4 separate regions of the Homo sapiens genome follow, and regions 1, 2 and 4 are each reported to be linked to region 3. The links are microRNA targets in miRTarBase. Many come from high-throughput screens and were not tested one by one. Region 3 holds a microRNA gene; each other region holds the end of a gene's coding sequence. Distances are from middle to middle.

Region 1 (8,192 bases), not on the chromosome of region 3:
AAAATGCACTCAACCCTTACTCCTATATTCAGTCACTGAATCTTGAGTCTTCCTTTGAAATGGCTTCAGCATCCACTCCTTCCTTATTACTCTGGCCATCATCTGAAACCAGTTCTCATAATTTTAAGTCTAGATTCCCATATCAGTCTCCTAGATAGCACAGCTAATTAACGTCACTTCAGTTTACGCAGAGAGCTTTTGGGGTAAGTCTAGGTCAGACTCCCAAGTCCACTACTCATTCACTGTGACCTTGGGAAACTTACCTAAACCTGTTTCATTTGTAAAATGGGGAATAACACCACTTTCCTCTGAGAAGCCATTGCAAGAATGAGACATTCTTGGAAAATTCTTTGCACAATGCCTGTTACTTTTTTTTTTTTTTTTTTTTTTTTTTTTTGGTCTCACTCTGTCACCCAGGCTGGAGTACAGGGTCATGATCCTGAGTCACTGCAACCTCCGCCTCTCAGGTTCAAGCAATTCTCATCCCTCAGCCTCCCAAGTAGCTGGGATTACAGACATGAGCCATCATGCCCTAATTTTTTGTATTTTTAGTAGAGATGGGGTTTTACCAAGTTGGCCAGGCTGGTCTCAAACTCCTGGCCTCAAGTGATTTGCCTGCCTTGGCTTCCCAAAGTGCTGGGATTACAGGCATGAGCCACCATGCCCAGCTTAAGAATTCTTGATTTTTGGAACCTTGATTATAAGCTGCCTGATGTCTGGAACCAAAACTTCTGTAACACTCTATTCCACGTGTACTTACAAAACACTCTAAACATTTATTAAACAGTTTGATGAAGGCCAAAATAAGAGGCATATGCTATTCTACAACACGGTAACACTCTTCGTCACTTAAAATAATTAAGCTTTGAGAACACAAAATAAAGCTTTTTAAAAAAGCCATTCAGAAATAGGAAGCAGTTTGGGAAATGATTGTGCTACGCCAATCAAGAAAATGTTGTACCTCAAACATCTGAAGGTAGCAATCTGTTTTTTTCTTTCCCTGCAGCTACCCTTATTGGAAACATAAGGGAATATAAAGTGAAAACAGGCAATGTTTGCCTGTTTTTATAGCTTTTAGCCTTACCACTTTTCAGTTTGGGGATGGAATGCCTTTGGCTCAGTAGATTCTACTGGCTTTGGGGAGCTCAGAAAGGCCATAATGGGGCCTACAGGAAGAGGAAAAAGAGAGCTGACCTCTTAAGGGCAGGCCTTAGGTACAAGAGGCTTTTTTTAAAAAGTGACAAAACTTTTGAACTAAAGATGGAAAACGTAGTCTGACAAAGAATATTTGTGCAACTTTACAGTGCCAGTAAAATCATGGGAAAAGCTTGGATAGCCATACGTAGGTGTTTCTGAAACATGTCAGATTTTATATATATATATATATATATATATATATTTTTTTTTTTTTTTTTTTTTTTTTTTAGAGAGTCTTGCTTTGTTACCCAGGCTGGAGTGCAGTGGCACAATCTCGGATCACTGCAAATCCTCCGCCTCCTGGGTTCAAGCGATTCTCCTGCCTCGGTCTCCCAAGTAGCTGGGACTACAGGCGCCTGCCATCACACCCACCTAATTTATGTTTTTGCTAGAGATGGGGTTTCACCATGTTCCATGTTAGCCAGGCTGGTCTCCAACTCCTGACTTCAGATTATCTGCCCGCCTTGGCCTCCCAAAGTGCTGGGATTACAGGCGTGAGCCTCCATACCCGGCCCATGTCAGATATATTTAAAACTAAGAAAGCTTGGGAAAATCTCTGCCAATGATCTCCATATCAGTTAACCCCGTTCCATAGAGTCAGAAAGGCAGAGGGTCTTAGTGCAGATGCCTGCATAAAGATAAAACGTTGCATGTTCTTGGAAAATATGGCTAGACCACCCTTCCCATACCATCTAGCTGCAGTATAAATTAACATACCCATGTGGAAAAGTGGTATGAATCAAGAACTACAAAAGTGTTCATATACCCTTGACTAGAAATTCCACCTCCAGTATTTTATCCTAAGAAAATAATTTATACACAAAGACATTCATTGTGGCATTATGAGATATAATCTAAACTGTTCAAAATAAGTAAAGGTTATATGAAACATGGCACATCCATAACAATGGAGTACCATAAAATTAATAATAGTTGACACAGTTTTAATGACATGGAATAATGCCTGTAGGTTGCGGGGAAAAACCCCAAGATATAAATTACACTGAGAATGATGAAACTAAGTAAAAATATGCAGAAGTAGCAAAGACAATGGCAAGGAAGATGCAAAAATATCAAGTGATTTTTTCTGGTGACAGAATCATAGGCAATTAATTGTTATACTTTTCTGTATTGTCTAAATTTTCCACAATAAGCATGTACTACTGACATAAACAGAAAAAACAAACATTATTCAACCAGGCAAGCATTAAAGAATGGACATTGGGTACAGCTTTATTTATTTCTTTTAGGAATTGCAGGTTCCTAACAAAGTAGGGGTGAGGGGGGTGTTACAAACCAGTCACTAGGCAGGAACATTAGACTCCAAAAGCAGAGAAATGCTTAATTTTCTTCTACCTGTTTCACCACATTCATGTAGAACTGTAGTAAAAAAGATGGTGAATCAGGCTGAATCAATCTAAATAACAACTTAAGGCTCCCAAATCACATGAACCTAGGACCACTAAATCCAATGTCAGACGTGTTTAAATGGTGCACTGCTCTACATTTTTCTATTATGCAAAGAGCTAGAAAATAATGGTAGTGTCATTATGACATTCCATGAAAATGAAGAAAATCTTTCAGGAAAAATTAAGAAAATAAAAATGTTTACTAAAGAAAGAATGGTCCGGCTAAGTGCTTTTTTTTTTTTTTTTTTTTTTAAACCAACTGAAGGCCAGAGAAATGAAAGGCATACCCGTGAATTAAATTAATGCTTTAAAAAAAATTGACTTTACTTAAAATACAAACAAACGTCAACTAATGAATACTTTATTGGCAGAAAAAAAAGACAACTTGGCTGGAAATGCTGAGTGTCTTGGACTGGTCTGAAGGAAGAACATCTGAAAGGTCTGAATGTCAAAGTCAGAACAGTCTCTGGTCAATCCTACTTTGCTTAAAATCCAACATTTTACCTTTCTTCAAATTCCTCAAGACTAAGGAAAACTTGGTTTTATACCAAGAATTATGAATCAACCTACACTTGCTATCCCTTACATCACATTTTCATTCTAGCTTTTCTGAAACACATTACCAGATAAATGCCATATAACCTAAATTCACCTCAATGCTTTCATTTTGCCTTTACAATTACCTTAGGACAGATGCCAAGTTTTTATAACTTCAGGCCAGAAAATCCTCAAGTGGCTCACCTAATTGTCAGAAAGTGAGTGAGTGACAACAGACCTCAGGCACGAAACTATTTTCAGCACCAATTACACTGTGGGGGGTTACCAGAACAAGAAAAGGCCTTCATAGTTCTAAGTGAAGAAAGATAAAAACATTTTATTTTGGCCAGGCGCGGTGGCTCACGCCTGTAAATCCCAGCACTTTGGGAGGCCAAGGCAGGCGGATCACCTGAGGTCGGGAGTTCGAGACCAGCCTGACCAAAATGGAGAAACCCCGTATCTACTAAAAATACAAAATTAGCTGGGCGTGGTGATACATGCCTGTAATCCCAGCTACTCGGGAGGCTGAGGCAGGAGAATCGCTTGAACCCTGTAGGTGGAGGTTGCGGTGAGCCAAGATCGCACCATTGCACTCCATCCCGGGCAACAAGAGCAAGACTCAGCCTCAAAAAAAAAAAAAAAAAAATTGATTTTAGGAGGCTGACAATTACAGTTCATTTCCTAAGATATTCCAGACAATCACTGGTTGGCTGACAGAATCTAGGTGACAGCTAAGATCACCCCTCTGAAACTCCCTTATATTTGGTTAAGCAGAAATCTGGGCTAGCAAAATAAACTACTAGAAAGTCAGGGTCTGGATAAGAAACAGTGACCACATTAAAGGCTGACGGATTAATAATCATGATGTTGCCATAAGGCCAAAGTCATAAAGTACTAATGCTCAAGACAGATAAACAACGTAAGCCCCAATTTCAAGATGATAAACTTCAAAGTGTATTTTTTAAAATGCAAGTTGCCTGTATGAAATAAATTAAAAATTTATATGTAATTTCAGTGTAAAACACCAAAACCGAACATTAAAACTGTTCACAGAAAATAGAAAAAAAAACAAAAAAACAAATCACAATTATAAAAGCACAGAGATATCAGTTATAAGAACCAAGTAAATAAACTAATTTCTATTAATATTTTCATTTACTTTATAAAACTTTGTTGATTAAATTGGGGGAGTCTCTGACAATCTAAAGGGTAACAAAATAACAAATATACATCATTTCTTTATAAGTCATACCACACAAACCAAGTTAAGTTTTTTCTATCTGATTACAGAGTCAATAAATATTGCATCTGTATTTAGAGCAGCAACATAAAACTTTATTAGAAAGAAATACTATATCTGGACCAAAAAACTGCAACATGGTTTGGAAATCTAATGACTAAGAAGGTAAAACTGGCAACTATGTGCAACTACTGCTCGTAGATTTGGGTTTGTTTCCCCCCCAACATCTTTAAAATAAGCAGCCCCCACAAAGGGATAATCCATTGAATAAGGAGACAATGTAGCCAAAGAAGGGATTTGTGGAAAACCATATGAATTTAAATCAACATAAAAAGAACACACAAAGGCCATGGAAACTTGAGAAGGTGAAAGAAAAAAAAAAAAAACCCCAAGCAAGGACAAGTCAGCTCCTTGGAGCTGCACCAACTCTTAAGTAGGATGTCCCTATTCTAACGGAAATTGATGAGTCCACACCTGGGCACTTCAGTTTGAGAAATCAATTGGTTGGACTGGCCATTAAAAAAAGGACTTTGTTTTTAAGGTAGATAAAGCTTAGAGAGAGAAAGCTAAACAGAAAAGTACCAAATCCTTGTGAACTCAAAAATGATTTAGGAAGTCAAATGAAGCAAACTAAAAAACTGGATGAAAATGTTTCTCTAAGAGTAAAACCCAGTTTTCTCTGTGATTTAAAATCAAACAAACACACTATAGAAGAGAAATTTTCAAAGTGCACCCAATAAAACCTCAGAGGTTCCCTGGAGTGTTTGGGGTAGCATGGATTGAGACAGGAAGTGGGTTCAGGCCCATCTCCCCCAACCCTTCTTCACTTTAATTCAAACATTTCTAATTCTCTTTTGTCGTTTGTAGTTTCAGGTAAGATATCATTTTAAAAAAATGAAAAAAAAAAAAAATCTAATGCTGTCCCTTTCCCTAAGTTTGAAAATCACTGCTGAGACTGAAATTACATTGGTGAGAAATATGATCATCATAAATCTAAAACACATTTTCTATGTAGTGCTACCAAAATACAAAGTTTCATCAAATATTTCACTACTATTCTGTAAAATAAATGAGAAAATTAAGTTGTTGGGAAGAAATTAAATTTTGTTATTACCACCTCCCAAAATCTGCTCTTCTGCTGGCTCCAAGATATCAATATTTGATAGTGTGAACAAATTTCTAACAAACATTCCAGTCACACCGTACCCCAAAGACATTTCATTCAATGGCTGCATAGTTTCTTTTTTGAGAAGGCAAGCCTCAAATTTATAGAAAACTCTAGAATGAAAAATGTACAATTACTAAAAACATAATAACACACTTTATGTCAGGGCAGAATCTGCATAGTGCTTTTAAACATAATCACCAATGAAGAGTAGCCAAATCCCAGAACTTCACACAGCACTCATTAGCAAACAACGTCAAAGTGTAAATGATAAGCAGGAAAAAAACCAAGTAACACGAATGCCATTTTTCTTTGATGCAATCACGAAGAAAAGTGGAAATGCAGGACGAAAAGTGGAATCCAAGCTTTGGCCACGTACTGAAACTTCATTACTTCAATGAAACAGAGCAAATCTCCATGGAAAGGACTCATTCAGCAAACATTAAGTTCTTTCCATATATTTTTTTTCCTTCACGTAAGGTTAAACAGAAGTTGCTGTCATTCTAGAATCAGTGATTACAATTTTTTTTTTAATTAGAAAAAAGGTTACTTGAATATTTACATAATTTTATTGCTCTTTATTTTAACAAAAACTTTTTTCACTGATTTGTAGACTCCATCCATTAACGTATGAAAGTGAAATCCATCTCTCAGGAAGATACAGTTATGGTTGAATGTATCTGATGCTGAGAGTACAGCATAATTAAGAAAAATCCTTGCATGTCATTTGGTTCTTGTTGCAGTCTTCTGTGTTCACCCCTCAGAAAGCAAAAGAATCCATCTGACTTTCAATAAATACCAAATTATTAAAAAAAAAAAAAAAAGAACGTTTCCACAGACTAGAGATCCAAGAAAAAGCAGTTCTGATGAATGATTCCCAGAATCAAGTGAGTCCTCCTTTAGTCCAATGAGATGATGTCAGGAATGTTACTTCCACTGCTGGTTATGACCCCTGTCTCACTCCTGCTGCTGGATGAACTAACATGAGTACTGCTTTCATGGGAGCTGGTGGTGGTGACAGACGTACTGCTTGCTGTTAAGGGTGAGGTGAGACTATCCAAAAACATAGGAGGACAGTACTGCTTGAAACAAACAATGATGCCAATGAGGAAGAGGCTACTTGATTTTAAATAAAGAGACTAGAAATTATTAGATATGCACAAGCAATAGTCACATATTTAAATCCCAGTGGGATTTAAAAATTGCTCAAAACTTCACATCTTTGGGTGGAAGATAGCATGAATTTAGCTATTTTACATTATTTAGAGAATGCAGCATATATTCTTGATTCTCTCTAAACTTGTGGAACTTGTTTGCTGACCACATACAAAGGTAAAAGTACAATGTCAACAATAACTGAAGTCATTTAATACTAAATATTGGCCCTAATCTCAAAAAGAATTTGCTCCCTAACTGTATTTAGTTGGGTGTCAATTTTGAAAGAATTGTTGATCTTACACCAGCATTTTTGCTTAATAACATTTTTAAAAGTATTTGTTAGCCTTTCCCGGTATGGATTGAGTATCAAACAGATCCTTTATGAATGTTAAGGCTGACCAGCTGAATGATGGCATTGGACTCCTTTGTACATAAACGTAAAATACTTGTGTCATCAGAATGACAACATTCATTCTAAAACACAGACTACACGGTAGCTAGCTATCACAGGATCCTCAGGACAGAAAATTATCTCAGGTAATCACCAAGTTTTGCAATAAATGTTAAAGAAGATCTAACCTAATCTTCTCGTGATGCCTGCTTAACACCCCTTTCCTAGTGCTCATATTTCACAAGTCCCCTTACAATCCTGGTTACTGATCCCATTACTGATCCCAAACAAGTACAAACCTGAATGTACTACTCTAATATTAACAGAGGAGTGAAGAGAGACAAGCCAAAAGCATTATATCAGTATAGAATATTTTTATGTGAGAAACGACTGCACTGACTTTAGTAAAACAAGAGGTCTAGTGATATCCTGCAAGAGATGGTTTAAGTTTGTCATTAGTTCAACTGTATGAAAGATCAGTAAGGATATCTGATTCATATTCCCCATTCTAAAGATTATGCAGCTTATCATTAGAGACACTGGATTATGGAACAGGAATTTAAGTCAAGTTGTTTAGACTACATGATTTCCAAGGCCGGTGAATAAAACAGGAACAACAGTCCCAGGTTTAAGTTGCCAGCCAGAGGGACAGCAACAAGTAAAATTCAGACTGCTCTTCAAAAGAACAAGTTATTTAATGCTTTGGATAGATAACTGTTTTGGTTCATCAATAAAATGAATGCCACATACAGAGTCAAGGGACATTAGTTACAGGGAGAACAGTTCTTAAAGAGCTTCCAAGGAGCTCTAAAGATGGTTGAATTGTCCAGTATTAAAACTCTTTTCTAAAATCAAATCAATTTCTAACTTTCCACTAAAACTGGGGGGTAAATCTAGAACAAAGCCCAGAAACTTACATTTTATTCCTGCTGCCTCTCAGGTAGTTTTTGATTGCCTTATAGGAAAAAGATACTCATTCATGAAAGTTGTGCTAGATGCTACAGTGCTGCCATCAACAGGCTCTGTGCGTTGAATTCTTAGTAGTATTCAGATTGCAGCCACTTAAGTTCTAACCCTGCATCCCTAATTGTAGCT
Region 2 (8,192 bases), not on the chromosome of region 3:
ATTGGATTGGTAAATTTTTAGAGATGCCTTTTTTTTTTTTTTAGACAGAGTCTTGCTTTGTTGCCCAAGCTAGAGAGTGCAGCGATGCGATCTCGCCTCACTGCAACCTCTGCCTCCTGGGCTCAAGTGATCCTCCCGCCTCATTCTCCCAAGTAGCTGGGACTACAGGCCCATGCCACCATACCTGGTTTATTTTTGTATTTTTTGTAGAGACAGGGTTTCACCATGTTGCCCAGGCTGGTCTCAACTTCTGGGCTCAAGTGGTCCGCCCATCTCAGCCTTCCAGAGCGTTGGGAATACAGGTGTGAGCTACTGCGTTGGCCTAGAGATGCTTTTTATGGGAAGTCACGATAATGGTTAAAACAGGCTTTAGAGTCAGATATGTGTGGGTTTGAAACAAGTGCTAGTTAATGGTTTGTGACCTTGTGAAAAAATAATAATATTTCTACTTAATAGAGTTATGTTGAAGGTATAATGAGATAGCATATACAAAGAGCTTAGCAAAATGCCTTCCCCACAGTAAGTGCTCTGTTAATAGTTTGTGTGGGCCAGGCGCGATGGCTCACGTCTGTAATCTCAGCATTTTGGGAGGTCAAGGCGGGTGGATCAACTGAGGTCAGGAGTTTGAGACCAGCCTGACCAATACGATGAAACCCCGTCTGTACTAAAAATACGAAAATTAGCCGGGCGTGGCATGTGCCGGTAGTTCCAGCTACTCAGGAGGCTGAAGCAGGAGAATCACTTGAACCTGGGAGGTGGAGGTTGCAGTGAGCCGAGAACGCGCCATTGTACTCCAGCTTGGGCAACAAGAGCGAAACTGTGTCTTAAAAAAAAAAAAATAGTTTGTGTGGTATTTTTTTTTAAGTGGAAAGCAGTCATGTCTATTCAACATCAAGTACTTTAATGTTCCATTTTTTCCCTAAAGTGATTTACCCACCTTACCACCACACTGGAGCATAGATATGTTAACTTTTGCTACAAAACAAGTCACCCCCAAATCTAATAGCTTAAAATGTTGACTTATTACTATTTCTCATGAGTATATGAGTTGGCTGCTTACTCTGTTGGTCTCATCTAGGTTCACTTACACAGCCACCTTCACCTGGAGGCTCAAATCATAGGTCTGGCAGCTGGTGCTAGCTGTCAGCTGGGGCATCTCTGTTCCCCTCCACATGGTCCCCCATCCTTCAGTAAGCTAGTCTGGCTTCTTTACATGGCAATCTTGGGGTAGTGTTCTTAGAAGGTGGCAGACAAAAGCTTGAAAGCCACTTAAAGCCTATGCAGTGGGACTTGTGCAACATTATTTCCACCACATTCAGTGGGTCAAAAAGCAAATCATAAAGCAAGACCAGATTCAAGAGAGTGGAGAAAGAGCTCCACCTTTGGATGGAAAAAGCAGCAAAATCACATTGCAAAGTTGCATGCACAATGGAATGAGAGGAAATCGTGGCCATCAAAGAATTGGTGGTCGGGCACGGTAGCTCATGCCTGTAATCCCAGCACTTTGAGAGGCTGAGGCAGGAGGATTGCTTGAGTCCAGGAGTTCAAGATCAGCCTGGACAATATTGTGAAACCCCTACTCTACAAAAAATTATCCAGGCATAGTGGAGTGCACCTGCATTTCTAGCTACTCAGGAAGCTGAGGTGGGAAGATCACCTGAGGCTGGAAGGTCAAGGCTGCAGTGAACCATGATTGTACCACTGCATTCCAGCCTGGGTGACAGAGTGAGACCCTATCTCTAAATAAATAAATAAATAAAAATAAAAGAAAATTCCAAATGGGGGCCCAGGCATGGTGGTTCATGCCTGTAATCCCAGCACTTTGGAAGGCCAAGGTGGGCGGATCACTTGAGCCCAGGTTACAGTGAGTTACGATCATGTCACTGCACTCTAGCCTGGGTGCCAGAGCAAGATTCTGTTTCTAAAAAATAAATAAATTCCAAATAACATAAAACACTAACATTAAAGAAACATTAAACATTTAATGTTAAAATAACATTAAAGAAAGGCATGACATTTTTATGTTTATCTAAGGGCACGGATTGAAAACTTGACAAACATGAATACAGGACCTAGAGATCAGAAGTCAGAAAGAAATAAGGAGATGAAATGGATCTGTTTTAGAGAGCTGCTCTCTTTCTACTTCAACCAACTCAGAGATATCCATCTATTTACTTGTATAAAGTGTTAAGGGAAGAAACAGATTTAGGGCTCAGAATTATAGAAAAGCCCTTCCTTTATTAGGGTGTATAAAAACTTTGATTTCTTTTTGAATTTTCCTGAGTTCAGTGGCACACTGGTAATCTCTAGTACACATGATCTGTGGCTGTTAGAACAAAATTCCCCAATACGTTAACACTGCAGCCTCCAAAATGGCTCCCAATGATCCCAACCTTCTGGTATCCACTCCTTTCTACAGTCCTCTCCCACACCAAATCAGGGTTGGTTTCTGTAACCAACAGAATTTGGCATAAGTGATGGCATATGGCTTCCAAGGCTGATTTATAAAAGACATTGAGGTGTTTCCCTGTTTCTTCAATCGCCTGCTCTAAAGGGAAGCCATAGCACAGACAAGCAGACCTATGGAGAGGGCCATGTGGTGAGAAACTGAAAACTCTTGCCCAAAGCCAGCAAGCCACAAAGACCTCTTGCCCATGGCCACGTGGGTGAATCATTTTGGAATCAGATTATCCAGCCCCAGTCAAGCCTTCCCTCAGATGCCTGAAGCCCCTGCTGACATCTTGTCTACAAACTCATGAGACCCTGAGCTAGAAACACCCAGCAAAGCTGCCCCCAAATTTCTGAAACACAAACTGTGAGACAATAAGCTTTGGGGTAATTTGTTATGCAGTAATAGATAACTAATACACATTATACTACAGGAAAAAGCTCAAGACACAGAAGGCCAGATATGGTGTGATTCCATTTATATGAAACATCCGTAACAGGCAAATCCAAAGAGATAGAAAGTAGATTGCTGGTTACCAGGGGCTGGAAGGACAGAGGAATGGGGAGCAAATGCTAATGGGTATGAGGTTTCTTCTTGGGGTGAAAATGAATTGGATAGTGGTAATGGGTACATAATCTCGTGACTATACTAAAAACCACTGAATTGTACACGTTAAAGAATTTTATGGCATATGGACTGTGAATTATATCTAAATTACGTGTGTGTGTGTATGTGTGTATGTATTTGGAACAGAGCAGCGGATGGAAGTTGGAAGGACTTTAAGGAAAGTGTTAATGAAAACCTGAAGAGCCTTGAAGAAATTGTTGAGAAGTATGGCCTTTGAAGAGGCTGCAGGTGTAGTCTTAAGGAAAGTAAGAGAAATCTTATTGGCAATTAGAGGAAGGGATTCTTGTTTAGTACTGACAGAAAATTTAGCAACACTGTCGCCAGGAGTAACTCAGAAAACAGAAAATGTGCCTAATGAATTGGGTGACTAGCTGATGGGATTTCCATATGCAGTGTTTTTTTTTTTTTGTTGTTGTTTTTTGTTTTTTTGTTTTGAGGCTGGGTAATTTATAAAAAGAGGTTTATTTGGCTCACGGTTCTGCAGGCTGGACAGGAAGCATGGTGCTGGCATGTGCTTCTGGTGAGGGCCTCAGGAAGCTTACAACCATGGCGGAAAGAGAAGGGGGAGCCCGGATGTCACAGGGCAAGAGAAGGAGCAGAGAGCCATACACAGTGTTGAATGTGCTTCCTTAATTCTTGTTGCTTATACTAACATGCAAGAGAAAGATAAGCTAATGGAAGAACTATTGGTAAAGAATTAATAATTGATGGTTTAAAAAATTCCCAGACTCTTCAGATTGCAAATGATGCCAAAATTAAGAAATGGCTTCAAGGCAAAGATAATAATTGAGGGCACTTCCAGGAAAACATAGTCTAAAGATGATATTGAGGGCATGACTATACAATCCTTTCTCAAGACTTCAAAATGAATCAACATGGTGCTTCAGAGAACTATTTAAACAATAGAGTTCATTAGATTATTAGCGTAATTAGTTCTTCCCATTATCTTGGCAGAGACAAGCCCCAAGTTAGAGAGGGGATATTCTGAAGGGACTTTGGGGTGGCTTTTGTCTACTGGCATAAACCCCAATAAAATTCACAGGATACTCTTAACATTTTAAAATATTATATTGTCAGTTAATAGGGTTGCTAAAAAAAATTCAAAAATTAGAGAAATAAAATATTATATTGGCAGAACCACTGTTAACTTAGATGGAAAGGAAAGAGAGTATAAAAAGGCCTTTGGGTCTCCAAACTTCTACAAGTGGAAAGCACACTGAGAAAACCACTCAGCTAGAAAGATACGCTACCTTTCATGAAAAAAAGGTATGGGGAAGCGGCCAGGCTTAGTGGCTCACGCCTGTAATCCCAGCACTTTGGGAGGCCGAGGGGGGCGGATCACCTGAGGTCAGGAGTTCGAGACCAGCCTGGCCAACATGGTGAAACGCTGTCTCTACTAAAAATACAAAAATTAGTCGGGAGTGGTGGCACGCACCTGTAATCCCAGCTACTCGAGAGGCTGAGGTGGGAGAATTGCTTGAACCCAGGAGGCTAAGGCTGCAGTGAGCCGAGATTGTGCCACTGTACTCCAGCCTGGGTGACAGAGGGAAACCCTGTCTCAAAAAAAAAAAAAAAAAAGTAAAAAAGAACAATTAAAAAAAGTATAACTCAGGGGCTGGGTGCGGTGGCTCATGCCTATAATCCCAGCACTTTGGGAGGCTGAGGTGGGTGGATCACTTGAGCCCAGTAGTTGAAGACCAGCCTGGGAAATATGGTGAACAGCTGTCTCTTAAAAAAAAGAAAAAGTATAACTCGTAAGGTAGAACTAAGAGCCCAGAGAACATAGCCAAGAACTAAGAATTATTCTGAAGCCTTGAATACTAATCAGAGTTGCCAACCTCTGTCTGACTGAATTTCAGAATTGCCAGTCTCCTGTATGTCTTCCACTTCCCTACTTTTTGAAGAGGACGGTATCTAGCAATTATCCTATATCTGCTGTGCTACGGTATGTTACACATATGGGGAGCAAATAACTACAGTTCACAGGTCTTAAGAGAAACTACTTGAGTTGCTGTACCTAAGGAACTCATCCCAAGGAGCCCTCATTCACACTTGCACCTGACCTGATTTAGATGATAAGATACTGGGCTTTGAGCTGATGCTATATTAAGGTGAAACTTCTGGAGGATTTGAAAGGAGGTAAGAGTATTTTGCATTGGGAAGGACATAAATCATTGGGGACCAGAGGTCAGACTGTGGTACCCAACTTCCAAGTTGACACCCAGTGATTCCTGCCTCCTAATATTCACAATGTATATAATCTCTTCAACATTTATTAGGCCCCATGTAACCCATGGAATTTGGCAAATGTGATGGTATGTGACTTGAGGCTAGTTTATAAAAGAGTGACTTCTGCCTGGCACTCTCTGTCTCATCACTTACTCTGCGGGAAGCCAACTACCATAAGATACTCAAGCAGCCCTACAGAGAGGTCCATGTGGTGACAAACTGAGTCCCCTTGCCACCCACCAGCCAGAGAACTGACTCTTGCCAGCAGTCATGCAAGTAAGCCATGTGGAAGCATTTCCTCCAGCCCTGGAGAATTCTTCAGATGATCATAACACCTTGTCTGCAACCTCATTAGAGACCGCGCCAGACCCACGTGACTATATTGCTCCTGATTTCCCGATTCCTTCTCTGAACGTTTCTTTTAAGCTGTAGTGGATAACTAATATACCATTTCTCATGCTTTTGTTTCTGCTCTCATATTAAAAGGATATTTGGGCTGGGCACAGTGTCTCACGCCTGTAATCCCCAGCACTTTGGCAGGCTGAGGCGGATGGATCACCTGAGATCAAGAGTTCGAGACCAGCCTGGCCAACATGGCGAAATGCTGTCTCTATTAAAAATTCAAAAAGTGGCTGGGCATGGTGGTGGGTGCCTGTAATCCCAGCTACTTGGGAGGCTGAGGCAGGAGAATCGCTTGAACTCAGGAAGCAGAGGTTGTGGTGAGCCAAGATCACACCACTGCACTCCAGGCTGGGTAACACAGCAAGAGTCCATTTCAAAAAAAAAAAAAAAAAAAAAAGAAAAGAAAAAAAACCTCGGATATTTGGAGGCTCCTGTTGAATGAGATTTTCTCTGTATTACACATGCAGAAAGTACATATTTTATCAGAATATTTTATTTCAAGAGTTAACACTTTTTTCAAAAAGTAAAAACAATATAATTACTTCCCTGAGTATAAAGAACCAATTCTACAATAAAAGACCATTACAAAATTAAGCAATTAGAGGTACATAATTCTCTGCATTCAGTTATACTCTATTTCAAATTTATTCTTAAAAATGTCATGTTTTGGAACTTTAATGTTTCAAAAAAACCTCAGAACAACTCATTTTGCACCTATGGTGTTAAGGTTATCAGTCTGATCTGTCTTTATCAAATTCAAGGGCAATCTTCAAAGCGGTGCTATTGAGGCCAACAGATTGCATGTTACATATGATAGAAACAATGATTCCTCTTGGGGGAACCTTGTTATTTATAGTCTCTGTATCCAGTTCTTCAGGAAGGACCAGCAGGACACTACTGGCACCCACTGCCCCTCCAGTATGTGAAGCATAATGCCGTTGCTTTCTACACGAACCATACGTTTGTTTCCTTTCCACAACACCCCACGCCATTGCATATTTACCCTCTTTATCCCAAGACATCTCTGTGTTAGGGACTGGGGTCCACATCATAACCATTGTTTCTGGTTTGAGGTATCCAGGTAAAAGATTTTCATTTGAGTTCTTAAACAGCCCAACTTGGTAACCATAAAGCATTGCATTCCCAAATTTCAGAAGGTCACCCACTGTAGACAGAAATCCACCACCAGCCCATTTATAGGAGTTATCCACGTAAGGTGTGTTGACAAGACGTTTCTTTTTATTGTAAACATAAAATCTAAAAGGAAATAAGAAATGATCATGAAAAATTTCATAGTCACTGGCTTCACACATGATGATAGAAAAATGTATACATGAGAGAGATTGTATTTCAATGTAATGATCATACATTCTCAGAAACTATAAACTAACCACTAATTTTCAGTATGATTCAGGTCCTAATGACACACAGATAACTAAGTAAGATAGTCTAATTACCTTTTGAATTAAAGCATAGAAAGTGGTTTTTTTCTATTGGTATGGCTTGTCCATGCTGAGTGTATCAAACCTTTAATACCTGCAAAAATGTATTGGTTAATATTACACATGACATATTTGCCCTGTGCATATGGAGAAAGTTATCATTTGGTAGATATTCCTTGTCCTTGGGGTTAATGTTGCATCGTGCCACAAATGAATTTTATAACCAAAACTGTAAACATCCAAAGCACTTTGGGATGTTTAGGAATAAGGTTATTTGTAAGATGACTAGATTTCTTGGATAAAAATACCATATAAGCTGGGTGCAGCAGCTGGTGCCTGTAATCCCAGCAACTCAGGAGGCTAAGGCAGGAGGATCACTTGAGCCCAGGAGTTTGAGTCCAGCCTGGGCAGCAAAGCAAGACCCTATCTAAAAAAAAATTCTAAACAAAATACCATATACATATCATATATAATGATGTGACATGGTAGTTTCTTGGTGCAGTGGGAAAGGCTGGAGTTAGCAAACCCTAGTTTGAATCCTTTCTTCTTTTTTCAAGATTCTTATACGTCCCCTAAAAGTACAAGTCATAATATTGAGTGAAGTAGGGTTGGCAGTTAGGAAATGAGTGGCCACAGGTATGTGTCTGAAGATTTTAAAAAAGAGGTGGTTTTCTCATTGTCTCAAAATCAACATGTCTGTCATGTTTCTCTCCATTAAAACCTTCATTATACAACTTTTAATGACTTTCTTGCCCTAAACTCTCACATCCAGTAAGATGCTAAATCCTATTTATTCAATCTCTGCTTTGTGTCTTACCCTTCTCCCTTCCTTCTATTCCTATGACAACTCTCAAATTTTAGGCCCTCATTACTTTGTGTCAACTCCTGATTATATTTGTAATTCCAGCCAACCAAATAAAATTAAATCTAAAAGTTACATAATAGAAACACATTTTTTCATTGAGAAATAAATTTCTACTTTTCTTTTGAGACAGAGTCTTGCACTATTGCCTAGGCTGGACTGCAGCGGTACAATCATGGCT
Region 3 (8,192 bases):
GCAAAGAGATGGTCTGGGTGTATGTGGCTTTAGGCTACCTGACAACCCCCAAACCTCAAAATTACCAAAAATACAGACTATAGGGTGATCCTTCTCTTCTACCAATGAGTCACTTTTGGTCTCTTTAAGGACCAAGTTCCTCTGCTGCATGTAAAATATAGTTGGGTTGATTCTACAGGAAGAGATCCTGAAAGAAAGGGAAGGCAGATCTAGAGTCCCAAGTCAACAGCTGTCATGGCCTGACTCGTGGTACAGGGACCTCATGGTGCAGGGCTGACAATGTGCCCTGCTGAGGCCATCTGTGGAGTCACAGTGTGGCTATCCAGTGAGGCACCCATGTGCTTAACGAAGGCAATCTGGGCAGATGGGCCTACAAGGGACAGCAAAGACAACAGAAGAAGTCACAAAGGGGTATGCCCTGCTGCAAGGAACAGTTGCCATGTCCATGGAGGGAGAATGTTGCTATCTTGTTCCCCCGTCACCAAGGAAAGGCAGGGCTCCAGTCGGGATCTCCATGGCATGAGGGACCTTGTGCTCCACCCCCAGTGCCACCGTAGGTAATGTGAAGAACTCATGTTTGGAAGTGAGAGACTATATCACCTACAAAAGCTCTTAAGAGGGGCACAGCTTGTATGTAAACACAAAGCCACAGAAAGGAATCCTCTGCTGGCCACTGAGCCACGAAATTATTGATTCCCTTTTATAGACATGGTCACAAGTTTTCTTGAATTCAGAATCATAACTTTTATTTTGTCTGGCTGTTCCTCTCCTCTAGGTTTATACACTTTGTGCATATATGCAGACGTCTGGCTTGGTCTTTGATTCTATTCACCATAAGGAAAAAAATGATAAATAGATGTCTGATTCCAGCCTTGTTTCCATAGCCAAAGGGAGATGACAGATGCTTCAGCTTTGGGCTGGACACTCAGCCCTCACAACATTGTATAGATGAGTTGGCTTGTTAAGGGCTGCTCATGGCTTGCACGCCAAAGTGACTAGACTTTGGTGGTTTCTGTCTCTTTAGGAGCCAGCTTGGTTGCATGGCTCAGAAGCAAAAAGGTCCCACGTGCTACCATGTGGTACCAGGTAGTTTTAGAATTCTGACACACACTGCCTACCCATGCAGAGGAAGAGGTTACTCACCCTCCAGCCTGAGCCTTCTGGGAACCCAAAGCCAACCCTTCACCCCACAGCCCGCCTCACTGCATCTGGCCACACAGCACCACTCCCTCTTGGGCAAGCCTAATACATTTTCTCACGTGCTGATTCCTAACTGCCCCTTGGCCTGGGGAGTCCAGACCTCAGTCTGGTTGGTTTCCAGTTGAGTTTCAGCAGTTACGCAAATCAGGTTTCTGACTGTGTCTGAAATTCCAGTGCATACAGGAACAGCAGGTTGCTTAATCTCTAAATTCAGAGCCAACCCCTTTTCTAAATACGAAAGTGCTGCCCAGCTCCCATGGTAGATTAAAGGACCCACCCCTCCCAGCTCTGACAACCTGGCTCATCAAGCGTACAGGCGCCATCTTGTTTTCCAGGCCCTACCTCTGGTGGGGCGCCATACTTTTCATATTTTCATCCTTCCTCACTTGTTTTGTCAAACTGGGCCCCACCCCCATTCTTCTCTACTGACAACATCCAATTTCCAAATATAGGAGGAAAGATGGTTGAAATGTCCCGGTAGTAAACAACAATCTCCTGTGAGATGCTTTCCTGTGTTTCTGCAATGGACAAAAAGCTACTTACACAAGATGGCTCCATACCGAGGCCTGAAGTTTCGACACAAGTTAAACATGAACAAGGTCACCAGATTTTCCTCTTCCTTTATTAGAAATGACATAACAATGAAATACTGTGCTGGGTAGAGGAGCACTGCATGTTCAGAGGTAAGGTTGGAGGGCCTACAGTAAGCTTTCTTAGAGGGCAATAAAGAAACATTGTTCTAAATATGAGAAAACATGGTATTCAGCTGTCTTTTTTTTATAATTGCAAAAAACATCTTTTTTTTTTCCAAAGTGGCAACACCAAATGCTCTCAGATTGTGGAAGTCTAGCCAGCATTCAGTATGCAAAAGAGAAAGAAGTGAATGACTTGTGTGAATTACCAGAGTTTTGGTCCCCAATGGGTTCTTCCAGTAGGGCACACAGTCAATACATGGCTGGACTCATAGGTGTCTTTTCCAGCAGGTTCATAAACCAGGAAAGAGGGTGAAAATCCAACCACAGGCACATAGTTCATCTAATATTTCTTTACTATTGTTGGGACCCTGCAGAAAAGCTTCAACTTCCTAACTCCTGAATCTACCCATTTGGAGGCGATGGCACCAATACAGACTAAGAAACTAAAATCAGTTTCCCAAACAAGAGCCCATTCAAATTGCTGAGGGCTTAACTTGCTGCATCAACCCACTGATCACATTATTCACCAATGATATTAAAAAATCAACAGGTCAAGGTGGAGTGCTGGGAGCAGTGGCTCACACCTGTAATCCTAGCACTTTGGGAGGCCGAGGTGGGCAGATCACTTGAGGTCAAAAGTTTGACACCAATCTGGCCAACAGAGTGAAACTCTGTCTCTAAATGGGGGCGGAAATCAACAGACCAACCAGCAAACCAGCAAATGTTTTTTTCTAAAGATCGGATAGGCTTTGTGGGTCACTATCTCTGTCCTATATTCTTCTTTGTTTCTTCAACTCTTCAAAACATAAAACACATTCTTAGCTCCCAGGCCATACAAAAACAGGCTAGGGCAGTCTGGATTTGCCTAAGGGCCATAGCTTGCTGAACACCGCTTCCAGCAGGAACCCTGGGAAGGAACCTGTCCCCAACACAGCTTCTAAGTCACTGCAGATAGCACCTGGGACAGATCAGTCTGAAGGATGGGAGACAAAGGGGACACACACAACAGGTGAACAGTAGGCAAGAAAGGACAAGAGTTGGGGTGGCGACGGTAGGAACATGGGGTGAAAAAGTTTTCTAAAAGACCACAGGAGGTGCCGTTCCTCCTCCCATAGAAGGCTAGCTGTGTAATGCTGAGAAATCACACGGAAAGAGAGACTAGCAATGATGTGTGGGCTTGCTTGACTAAACACAGCCATCCCCCAGCCCTCCAGGACTAAAATGCAAAGCCACAAAACGTGGCCACCACGGCATGAGGATGACCACAGCATGAGGATGCCAGCCAGGCAGTAAGCAGTAACCCAAGCAGCTCCCAATTTTGCCTTTTCAGACACACCCCTGTGGCTACGGGGCATTCTCCAAACCTCAACGCAAACAGTTCCAGGATTCAGGCTGGGCTATTCTACCGAAACAAAATTCTCCACCTACCTCTGACGTTCTTCTCAGGCTGACCACACGCACCATTTCTATCCAACCTCCTCCATGTTAGCCCAATCCCCCAACACCCTGGCCACTTCATTAGTGAGGGAAAACATGTCAGATCATCCCAGTGCCCAGGAGAAGCAAGGCCTAGAAATGATTCAGAACCTGGGGCTGGAGATGATCTTTATTCTGTTCTACTTCTCTTATCACAAGCCCCAAACCTTGACAACGGAAGGAACACCCTGAGACTCGGCTACAATCATGGGAATCAAAAATCAGTTTTAAAATTATCCTTGCATGTGGCTGCCACCCATGGTCCTCCCCATTTATTTTCTACTTCTGAGTGTGAAACGTCACTGTGACAGTTTCCAACCCTCTGCACTCCCCCCACTCCATGACAAATATTCAGGATTCACACTTCACTTTCACACTGCTTTCCAATCCCTTGACTTAGAAGCCGAGCAGAGGCAGCCTGCCTTAATGGAGAAAACATTAGTGCATTCGGGCTTCACTCTGGATCCCAGTCAATTTCTGGATATTTCACAGCTGTTATACATCCACCTCCTTTCTTACAAAAGCCAGCAAAAATTAGTGAGCACCTCGTTGGCTCTGAAATATGAAAATGGAGCCACAGTCAAGCCTGAAAATCGGTTTCTGGTTGACTCCCTTCAAAGTATTTGTTCTAAAACACAGTGTCTGCAGTTCATTTATCATCTGCCAATTTTTAAATGAGTTTAAATTAAAAAAGCTTCAATGCTGCATGCTTTTTTTCTTTTTTTTTTTTTAAAGCAACTCTCAGAATAAAACTGTCATTTGGTCATCACACTAGTAACTGAGAGAACTCTTGCTTGGGCAGATATCAGCACAATTCAAGCTGAGTCTTTTATGTTATTATTACCTGCTCATCTCTCATATAATTAAAAAATAATAAACCCTTGGAAGACCTGTAAGTTGTGTTCAGAGAGAAAATGTGATTCTCTTCACCACTCAGGTCTCCCGTCCTACCTGCTTTATGAGCTGGTCAGGTGAGCGTGCTCTGCTGTGCTTCAGCAGCCTCTGGAATGGGACAGACTCCAAAGTTGGTTGTGCTTCACTTCCCTTCTCCATTCAGGTCTTTAAAGTCCTGGGTTATTAACTATCAACAAAAATACAAGCTGCGCCATGCGTGCTCCAACTTCCTGCCAGCTCCCCATGCTCTGTGGAGCTGAGGAGCAGATTCTCTCTCTCTCCTCCCGGCTTCACCTCCTGAGCTCCAGAGCCCCACCCACCCACAGCACTCAGATCATTTTTCATTTATGAATGCATCCAGCCACGCTGTGTTTGTAAGAGAAGGAGCCAATCCTTGCCCTGCCAGTGTATTGGAACCAGGCTGCTATAAACGGTTCTAATTTTCCAGGAGTATGGGGGGAAATCATATCCCAGCAGACATCATGCATGGCTTCCTCCTGCAGGTATCTGCAGATCAGCTCTTCCATCACCAAAGGACGCACACTTGGCCACGGACCACAGCTGCTTCATTCTACAGACTGCCAGGGAGGAGGACTGAAGATTTCAGGCAGGAGAAAACCAAAATACTATCAAAATGTGTACTTCACATAACTAAAAATGTGAAGCTAGGATGATCAGTGAAGAAACTTTCCACTCAGTGACCTGATATTTCACAATACATTTAATCTGTCTTGCACTTATTAAAGGGCCAGATTTTTTTTTAAATTGCATCCAAATGCAAACAAAAATCAAGGGGTTAAATTATTTTATAAAGAAGTCTGTTGGGAAATAAAAGCCATTTGTCTTGATGACACCAAATTTACAACTTTTCTACTCCGACTAAGCTTCCAACTTCCATTGTAGACAAGTACTAGCAAAACCAGAAATTATCAGTCAGCCCTTGAGTTGCTGAAAAAATCCTCAACTTTTAAACACAATATGATTTTTCTAAGGTTTTATCAGGAAATAGAATGTTAAAAAATAGGCTTCCCTAAACCAACACACATATATAGTAGTTTCTATTATGGGTAAAATTTGCCTTGTTTTACAGCTGAAGCCAAAGGGGTCTTTCATGATCCAACAGCCAGAGACAAAGATTCCAAAAACCTTTGGTGCAGGTATAAAAATGTACATGTGCAACTTAAATGGGAATGACATTTTATTATTCCAATACTCACAAGGTCCTTTGTTAGCTATACTTGTAAGGAACAAAATAGGAGCAAACATCCTCTGTTTACTTCTTGCAGCCATTCTATTTTCTTTCTTTTTTTTTTTTTGAGACAGGGTCTGGCTCTGTTGCCCAGGTGGGAGTGCAGTGGAGTAATCTCGGCCCACTGCAACCTCCATCTTCCGGGTTCAAGAGATTCTCCTGCCTCAACCTCCTGGAGTAGCTGGGATTACAGGCGCCCGCCACCATGCCCAGATATTTTTTGTATTTTTAGTAGAGATGGGGTTTCACCATGTTGGTCAAGCTGGTCTCAAACTCCTGGTCTCAAGTGATCTGCCCATCTCGGCCTCCCAAAGTTCTGGGATTACAGGTGTGAGCCACCACTGCTGGCCAGATTTTTGGTGTTTTTTAGTATATTCATTTATTTTAGAGTTTTATCCAGTATAAATTTTTCCCCTAGGAGCCTTGTATTGACATAACCTAGTTCCAGTCACAGTGAGACATTTTTGAAATTGCTTCTAAATTTTCCATGTATTAAAAAACTGGTGGTCTAGTATCCGGACTTAAGTCTTTTTTTTTTTTTTTTTTTAATTAGATGGTTCAAATGTCTCCTAAACAGAAAATGCTATACATTTTCTCATGTGCTCCAAATGGATTCTAGCCATCCCAATACCCTAACACATTCTTGAAAACAAAAACAGGATCCGCCTTTTACTGATGAGATAAAGAAGACAGAAAGTCACTAGTATATATGATGTTTCCCTGGTGCGGCAGAGAAAGAACTAATGGGAGGATTAGTTCCTAGTCTCCAAACACCAGCAGGGAGCCCCAGGCAAGTCCACATTTTTTGTGTGCATTCAAGAGGCCTGAAAGTTGATCGTGTGGGTAACTTCCTGGAACTCACCTTCCTAGTTCAGGAAAGCGTGGACTCCTGCTCACAGTTCAAGCTAAGGAGAAGGAAGTCTGCTCTTTAGCTTTTTTTTCTTTTAAAAGAAGTGAGGGAAAAAGATTAAAATTGCCTTGGCCTGTGACCAAACTGCAGTCCTAACAAGAGGTAAAATTTGCCTATAAAATATTCCTGACAGTATTAGTTGGTGACATCTGCCAAAAATCTATGGTAAAACCAGTTATCCTGCCTCTCTTTGTCCCATTCTCTCAACGAAGGGTGGATAATATATAACATATAGTTTTGCTTTAAGGGGAATTACTGCTACATTTACTCACAAAACGAGCCACGTAGCATACACCAGAATTCAGCAAGTACACAAGCCACCTAACCGACCCAAGTTTCTGAATTGCATTATCCATGACAGGCATCTGGGGCTCTGCCTTCTTCGTGTCCACCTTGGTTCCTTGGTCACTGGGCTTAGGAGACCACTGTGCACTCACTGTCCATCACCCGGGAGGGACCCTGAAGATCACTGAGTTCTACTTTCTCATTGCGTTCGTGTGGAAACAGAGGCCCACAGGAACATGAGGAAGCTTTCCAACATCACAGGGCACATTAGTGGAAGTACTGAGGTTACAACGTAAATCTTCCTGATTCAAACTCTAAGATGGTGCCAAGGGGACAAGGTGTGGATCTTTGTAGGCAGGGGCTCAGTAATGGCTGTCCAGCGGGTCACAAAGCCCAGCCTAGGGACACACCTAAGATTCTCCCAGAAGCTAAAACAGAAAGGTAACAAAGAGGGCAATCCCAGAAATCCCCAGCAGGAGTCGATCATACAGCAAAAGCCAAGGGACACCCCAGGTATAAACCCAAGAACCGAAAGCAGACACACGAATGGATATTCACACCCTCGATATTTGTAGCAGCACTGTCCACTCAATAACCAAAAGGTGGAAGCCATCTAAGCATCCACTGATGGATGAATGGATACAGAAAATGTGATACATATGTACAATGGAATACTATTCAGCCGTAAAAAGGAAGGAAATTCTGACACATGCTACTACTTGGATGAGTTTTGAAAAGAAACTATGCTGGCCGGGCGCAGTGGCTCATGGCCTGTAATCCTAGCACTTTGGGAGACCGAGGTGGGTGGATCACTTGAGGTCAGGAGTTCGAGACCAGCCTGGCCAACATGGTGAAACCCCGTCTCTACTAAAAATACAAAAATTGGCCAGGCGTGGTGGCACACATCTGTAATCCCAGCTACTCGGGAGGATGAGGCATGAGAATCACTTGAACCCTGGAGGCAGAGGTTGCAGTGAGCCGAGATTGCACCATAGCACTCCAGCCTGGGCAACAAGAGCGAAACTCTGTCTTAAAAACAAGAAAAAAAAAAAAAGGACACTATGCTAAGTGAAATAAGCCAGTTATAAAAGGACAAACCCTATATGATTTTAATCGTATGAGGCACTCAGAATAGTAAAATTCACAGAGACAGAAAGTAGAATGGTGGTTGCCAGGGGCTGGGGAGAGGAGGAATGGGAAGTTACTGCTTAATGGATCCAGAGTTTCAGTTTTGCAAGAGGAAAAGCCTTCTGGAGATGGATAGTGGTGATGGTTACACAACAGTGTGAATGTACTTAATGCCACAAAACTATACATTTAAATTTATTAAAATGAGAACTTTTATATTAAGTGTGTGAAGTCAATGGAGCCTGGATTTTCTTTCTTTCTTTCTTTCTTTCTTTCTTTTTTTGAGGCAGAGTCTTGCTCTGTCGCCCAGGCTGGAGTGCAGTGGTGCAATCTTGGCTCACTGCAGCCTCCGCCT
Region 4 (7,000 bases), 100 Mb from region 3:
TTGCCCTTACAGATAGATGGCTCCCCAATACCAGAAGTGAGTTCGGCAAAGAGAAGGCCACGGAGAATGACCCCATTTTGGAGAGGGGTTTCCCTCAGGCCTATTGGAGCCTCCTGCCGGGATGATTCTGAGTGTATCACAAGGCTATGCAGGTACTCCCTGAACCTGGGAGCAGGGTTGGGCCAGAGAGCCCTGGGAAGCTGGGCAGAGGAGTGACAAGGGGACACATGAACCTAAGAATAAAGCTGGGATGGAGGAGTTCTAGACTGAGACTGGGAGCTCCATGGAAAATCCCTTAGGAGTTAGGAGCCAAGAACAGCTCTATGTGGGTACCATGAAAGAGTGGTGCCTTTCCATTCTTCAGTCTTTCCTGAGACTGGACAGATCAAGCAAAGAGGAAGGAAATGCAGCATAGGTGGCCCTGGTCATTCCTAGACCCAGTCTTAAAAAACTACCCTTTCTTTTCCCCTAGAAAAAGACGCTGTTCCTTAAGTGTGGCCCAGGAATGATGTACATACCAGGGAAAGAAAGGACAGCAGTCACCTCCGACAATGCTCCGTTCTATGGAATATTGATTAACTGCATTTTGGCTGGAGACACCCAAGTGAAGCAATCTTGTATTTTTAATATTTAAAGGCAGATGTACGCTTTAAATTGGTCTCCATTTCTTCTTAGAATGTTGATATATGGATAAGCATAACTAAACTTGTCAATTTAGAGTTTATTTTTCTATGGATACTATTAAATGTCTCAAATTGAAATTTTAGCAGTCTGGAATTCAAGCTTTTGAGGGAAAGAAGGATTCATTTTGTATACTAAAGAAAAAAACAGCATTGCCCAATAATGTGTTAACTTCTCAATCTGGAAAGTGTAGTGAGAGCTACATAATCAATAGCTACGTAATCAACTTCAGCAAGTTCCTAAGCTGTGGCCCTGGATCCCTTCACTCCATACTCTTCAGGGAGGTGTCAAAGGTGGTCAAGCTTGGGAGGCTGAGGCAGGAGAATCACTTGAACCTGGGAGGTGGAGGTTGCAGTGAGCCAAGATCATGCCACTGCACCCCAGCCTGGGTGACATAGAGAGACTCTGTCTCAAAAAAAAAAAAAAAAAAAAAAGATGGTCAAGCACTTGCCATCTAATGAAGCACCCAGGTTTGTCTATGGCTGTCTGAAGATAAGGCAGAACAGAGAGAAAAATCTAGTTTAATAAAGCAATGAAAGCCCAAGCCACCAAAAGCACCAAAAGAGATTTAAGATTTCTGTTGGGACAAGGTGAATTTTGACATATGCACAAGGACCCATGGCCAGCAAGTTCAGAATTTCTGTAATCAGAAAATGAGACCTCAGCTGGTGGGAACAGACTTTTAAAGAGTAGTAACGGACCTTAAGACACAAAACAGGAATTGCATGAAAAGGGCTCAGAGTTGAAGAAATATAAAGAGTACAGTGTTCAGTAACTTTAATACAGAAAATCTATTTGATATTTATTAAACTTAGTTTCTCCAACTATGGTTTGGCATTGTACAAAGCATCTTAATGACACAGTAGAGTTAAAAAGATCTTTACAAATTGAAATGTGATACCCTTGTCTCCAAATATTTTAATTGCCATAAATTTGTTTAAAAATACACATTAAACGCATGTTTGACACTCTAAACTTTCTATACTCTCAATACCACAAAATACATATAATATACTATACAGATGTGGAAAAATCTAGTTAGTATATAATACTTTGCTCACCATTAACAGCTTTATCGTGTGAAATGCACATACTGACTTAGAAATCCTAGCTTTTGAGCCCCAAAGTACCTCTGAAATTGTAATGTATTGCAACAAATAAAAATCACAGTATATAATTGAAATTCTGGTTGAAAATGTCAGATGCCTAAATATTTTGGATAAAAGAAATGTAAAACAAAGATTTGGTTCATGTACAAAACAAAGGCATCCTTATCAGTCACTAACAGTACCTTTCTGCAAAATCAACAGGCTTTTAATTTATCAGTGACATTATCTCCCCTCCAAAACCCTCCCCAAATATCAAACAATTATATACCAAATAATTTTAATTTCAAATAAAAGGATTTTCAATAAATATATAAGCATTTCCATCCTCCATATACAAAATTTCTTAAAACCATTCAAAACGGAGGCTAGATAGAAATTTTCATAACTGTGCTTACCAACCCCACAACTGGCCCTTAAAGGTGGTGCCTTTTCAGGCAATGTCAACTGGCCAGTTCTGTTGGTGAGCCCCCTACCCCCACCCCACCCATCCCAGTACTGTTGAATGCTCATGTTAATGATTTGCCAGGTGTGTGCATAAAGTTGTAAAATGGGGACACTTCTGGAACACCAACAACAAACTCAACAATATGGATGATCATGGCATTGATTTGAAAGGCAGCATTTCCAAATTGATATTTTCCAGAGAGGAACATAGCAGGTAGAAAATTCCAATGGTTAAAAGCTGAAAAGAAGTCCCACATGGAAGCAGTAAGAGGTCAAAACTGAGTATCACTAGAGTTTCTGGGTGGGAGCTTTTTTATTTTTAAGAATGGCAAGTTATGTTTAGCTGAGTAACAGTGGCAAGGAGAGGTCAATGCTGACATTCCTGAAAGTCAACTTCTTTACATGATGACTACTTAGGCTGCTATTTTAGGATACTTAAAGATCTCTAAGACTTGGATTAGACTTAACTTGAATACCTTATTCTGTGACCAAATTACATGAAAAGAAGATACATAGTTATTATTTCCATTCCCTTTTCTGGAGACAGCAAGTTCTTTCTAATTAACCATAGGGTTCATGTGAATAGGAGCTTTGTAAGACCAGCATCCACTTTACAGACTATTAATAATTTACTTTTTGTCACTTGCTAACTTGGTTTTGGGGTCTAGAGGTCTAAAGTGAATTTCTCCATTAGCGAGTATCTGAAAGACATGCTCACAAACATGAAAAATTTGGCCTCTTCTCACTACATATTCCAAGGTATTCAATAATTATCTCTTCTATTAGTTTTACTGAATAGCAACCTTAGATGTACAGTATTATTACTGGAAAAAAAGCCTGCCTCTTCAATACATTAATGCATAAAGCTGAAATGAAATTTATGTTCCATGTATTAGGGGATATACAGGTATGATAGGTGTCTATATGGGTTTGAAATGCTCTGTCTCCCCAAGTTACTTAGGTTTTTTAAAAAACATCATCACAAGCTGCCTAACAGTCATCCCCAGTAGATGTTCCTGGGACCCAGACACAAACTCCTATAAATCAAAATATATAATGAGGCCATACTGTTCAATTAGCAACTGGAAAATTAAAATCTTTCCCACCCTGTAAGAGCCCTACGACACTACAGAAGGGCTCAAATACATTTTAAAAGTTAATTTACTACAAATCATAGTAATTAAGCTTTAACAATCTAAAGGAATACACATTGCACCCTTGAACATTAATATTCAAGGTGTCAACAAGAAAGTGTCTTAGATCAATTTAATAAATAATGTGGAAATAGTTGCACTAAGCTAAAATACTAAACACACACATATTTGACAAACTAATTTCATGTTTTCATACATACATACATATATATAAAGTGTGTATGTGTACAGAATTTTAAGATCCAAAGTTGCATACCCTTACACCTAGAAGAGTGCACAGTGTACTCCTCCTCTATATAACTAGGCATCACTGACTGGAACAATCACTGGCTGCTCTGAAACTCCAGAGTACTGGCCTCTAGAGCCAGAACTTTCATTTATAACAAGTGCCTTTTGTAGGCTCTTGCTTCAGAATGCAAGCTCATTCATGAAGAAATGTACCAACGTTTCTGTCATTAAATACAAAATTATGCTGTCTGATCTGTCTGATTAAACCTTTAATGAAAAGAAACGAACAACAATTTTTTAAAAACTAGTGAATCTAATAAAGCCAAGTGTGTCATTCAAAGTGCAGCCCAAGTGCCTATGAATCCGCCACTGCCAGAGCTCCCAGAAACACAGGTGTCTGTGGGCTCACGCACACTGCTCTCAATTGTTTTTACACTAGAGAATTAAATAAATGGTGGTCAACCTTCTCCACTCTTCGGCAGCTGTAGCTGTAAGTTTATCTGAAGTACTCACTGCATATAAAGTCACTTCTTGGCTACTTGCCCAGAAAAAGGTGGCACTGAGGCAAGGAATGGGCTGGATGCTCTCTAGCCAGACTGGAGCCTGGGCTGAGCTGTGGAAACTCCCCTGAAGGGGAATGCTTCCCACAGCCCAGCCCAGTCTGGCCCAGGCAAGACTACTGTGACAACTGCAACCACTGCAATTGGTTCGTTGGTTGCTTGTAAAGAGTCTAATGGTGTATAGGCTGCTGCCTCCTGGCATACAAGTGTAGTCATAAAGAGCAGTCAACAGAGTAACTGTTTAAAATAGTTGTTGTTTCTATAATTAACCATATACTAAGTACAAGTCTCAGACTAAGTTTTTAGCCACTTGTCAAATTCAGTTTTAAATGCTTAGAAAACACTGAGGACACCTATTGAGGAGGGAGGGGGGAAGGTCACCTGTAAAGGAGTCCAAAGTATGTGCTGGAGCAGATGATGACAAAGACAGAACATCTAAGAAGATAGACATGGAGGAAAGGGAGTAGTATTTCCACACACTATGACATTGAAAATTCAATCATTTATGATAGGATTTTGATCCATTGCCCATTACTACCTTGTGGGAAAAATCCTCCACAATGAAAAGGTTGAAAAATTCATTCTCCAAAAATTGACACAGTTTTAAAGAGAAAATATTAGAGCAGCACCATAAACCATGCAGGAAACTCTGCTTTAACAAAATATCAGTGTGACCCCAAAAATGCTCCTGCTGCCTTTCAGGACATACAAGAGACTAGAACACAAGAACTCAGAGGTATCCCACTGGCTGTTGTTGCTGAAAGTCTGAAAGCCCAGAGGATACTTTTTCCATTTCTAAGACATCACTGCAAATTAAGGAATCCAAGTCAGAAAAATCAGAGAAGGACAAGACATAACATGTATTTGATTAACAACCATTATTTCTTACTAAATAACTATCATGATCATTGAGAAGTTGTCCTCTTATGGAAAACTGTTCCTAGAACACACTAAGATTAAGTTAGAAAGATATCAGAGGCAATTTCTCCAAGAGAAACAGGTTAAATTCAACATAATTTGTACATCTCAATCTTCAATGACATCTAAAAACAATCTGAGGTACAAAACAGTTAAGAAGCTCTATAAATATGAGGCCACAGGGACAATGAAAGTTCACTAACTTCAGAAATAAGTGTAAAAAAGTCTCAAACACAAAGGATTCACTGCACTACTGGACTTGAAACTTTTCTATCCCTTCTTTCCCCTTTCCTATTTCAAGCCTTAGCAATCATCTACAAATAGTAGGATAATCTTTTTTTCTGACTGAATGGATTCATTTTTGGAATGGGGAGAGGGACAAACTATTTTTCAAAGCAGCATTACCCAACTGGTTAGACTAAGTCATGTACCAAAGCAATAGCTTTTCTGAAAGAACTAATCTTTATATGACCCTAAAGAAAGATTTAAAATGAAAGAATTGAACATTATTATTGTAGAAGACCAATCATGTATGGACGATCTGGTCCTAGTGTAAAACTTCATTTGTAAACAATCCATAGAGTCTTCATTTAAAGGTAAGATTTAAGGCACACCAAACATGATAGGGGCATGAAAAATAAAGTATAGAGGGTACATTTCTTATCTTAGACTTCTATATGCACCTTGTAGCAAAAGGTACTTTGATATACAACTCTTACAGAGCCAGCTTCTTTAAGCTCTACCCCTGGCTCCACTCCCTGTCCCAAGAGCTCACACTGAATCAAGTTAGGTACACTTTTCTAGTGTGAAATTTTCTGATTCCATCAGAAACATACATCATTGAAGAGGGCCTTCATAATGCAAAAGGAGTAAACAGAAGATAGGTTTAAAAAGGAGAAATTCATCATCTCTACATCAGGCATTAGAACTGTAAGCTGTATAGCAAAAGCACACACCGAAGCTCCAGCCTATTTCTGTATCAGTCATTGCATGCTCATATCAGAGCATCACAATCCAGTATGAGGGGGAAAAATCTGAAAAATAACTCTAACTATCAAAGATAATCAATTAAAGACACACAGGCGGCAATCCTCAGGAGTTGGATCATCCTTTTTTCCACAGTAACTTATTCTGTTTCGATTAAGTGTCAAATGATTAGCAACAAAAAATAACATATGGTTTTAATAAAATCCGTAACGTTCAGGATTGTCCTTTTATGAAACCCTTCAACATGAAATGCTTCTTCTAGAAAGTTTGTCCTCCCTCTTTTGTAATGCATTAAATGCAAGCTATAGTCACTGTGTGATTGCTGTAGTGTTATTAACACACATTCACAGTTTTTGAAATAATGCATACCAAATCAGACACATTTCATAGTACATACATGTAGAATGCCATTTTCTCATATTTAAGTGATTTTTTCATGTGTAGAAGAATATCCTTAATACTAACTGTAAATTCCACAATAATAAAATTGGAGTTAAGATTTCAAATATCAGGTCAGGTAGCAGGTGTAGAAAGAATATGTCCTTATTTTAGACGAACCAATTCTTACTCTTAGAACAGCTACCACAAAAAGATATTAGGTAATAAAGCTCCCAAGGTATATAAATAAAAATGTCTACATTAAATTTATGCTAAATATTCAACAGAGTAAATTTATAGGCAGAAATAACTAAGTCTTAAACTAGCCCCAATCTGGGAACTTAAAAAAATTAAAATAAATAAAATTTCAATTCATTAGTTATGAATTGCAACTGGAATTTCAATCTTATCATAGCTCACGGAAACCATCTTATCAATGTGCTGCAGATTTAAAAGCATTTAAATAATCTTTCACATTGGAAATATTAAAGGGCCAACTGACATGATCGCTTTGGATTATCAAAAACAACAACACATGAAC

The links. Region 3 holds the annotated microRNA hsa-miR-4279 (CUCUCCUCCCGGCUUC, at 4,542-4,557, shown strand). A microRNA usually pairs through its seed, bases 2 to 8, with sites in the 3' UTR of a target mRNA and lowers its output. Matches are read on the target gene's strand: a 7mer-m8 pairs with bases 2 to 8, a 7mer-A1 pairs with bases 2 to 7 and ends in A, and an 8mer does both.
Region 1: miRTarBase lists PIAS2 as a target of hsa-miR-4279. Seed matches in the 3' UTR shown: 7mer-A1 at 1,512-1,518.
Region 2: miRTarBase lists LACTB as a target of hsa-miR-4279. The part of its 3' UTR that is shown has no 7-base or 8-base seed match.
Region 4: the mRNA of LEAP2 is a reported target of hsa-miR-4279. Seed matches in the 3' UTR shown: 7mer-A1 at 1,000-1,006.

The regions. Positions count from the first base shown.
Region 1 is chr18:46,805,986-46,814,177 of GRCh38, forward strand. PIAS2 (protein inhibitor of activated STAT 2) reads right to left here. Exons shown (of 14, transcript NM_004671.5): 14 at 1-6,627. The coding sequence ends at 6,448. Among named protein-coding and RNA genes, the nearest start is that of ST8SIA5-DT, 53 kb to the left of the region's middle.
Region 2 is chr15:63,140,052-63,148,243 of GRCh38, reverse strand. LACTB (lactamase beta) reads right to left here. Exons shown (of 6, transcript NM_032857.5): 6 at 6,183-6,964. The coding sequence ends at 6,439. Among named protein-coding and RNA genes, the nearest start is that of RPS27L, 13 kb to the left of the region's middle.
Region 3 is chr5:31,932,477-31,940,668 of GRCh38, reverse strand. It overlaps MIR4279 (microRNA 4279), which reads left to right and starts at 4,510; the gene lies at 4,510-4,567. The region is part of intron 2 of PDZD2 (PDZ domain containing 2); the gene reads right to left.
Region 4 is chr5:132,873,938-132,880,937 of GRCh38, forward strand. It overlaps LEAP2 (liver enriched antimicrobial peptide 2), which reads left to right. Exons shown (of 3, transcript NM_052971.3): 2 at 13-152; 3 at 473-1,109. The coding sequence ends at 509. AFF4 (ALF transcription elongation factor 4) reads right to left here. Exons shown (of 21, transcript NM_014423.4): 21 at 1,458-7,000. Among named protein-coding and RNA genes, the nearest start is that of LEAP2, 3.8 kb to the left of the region's middle.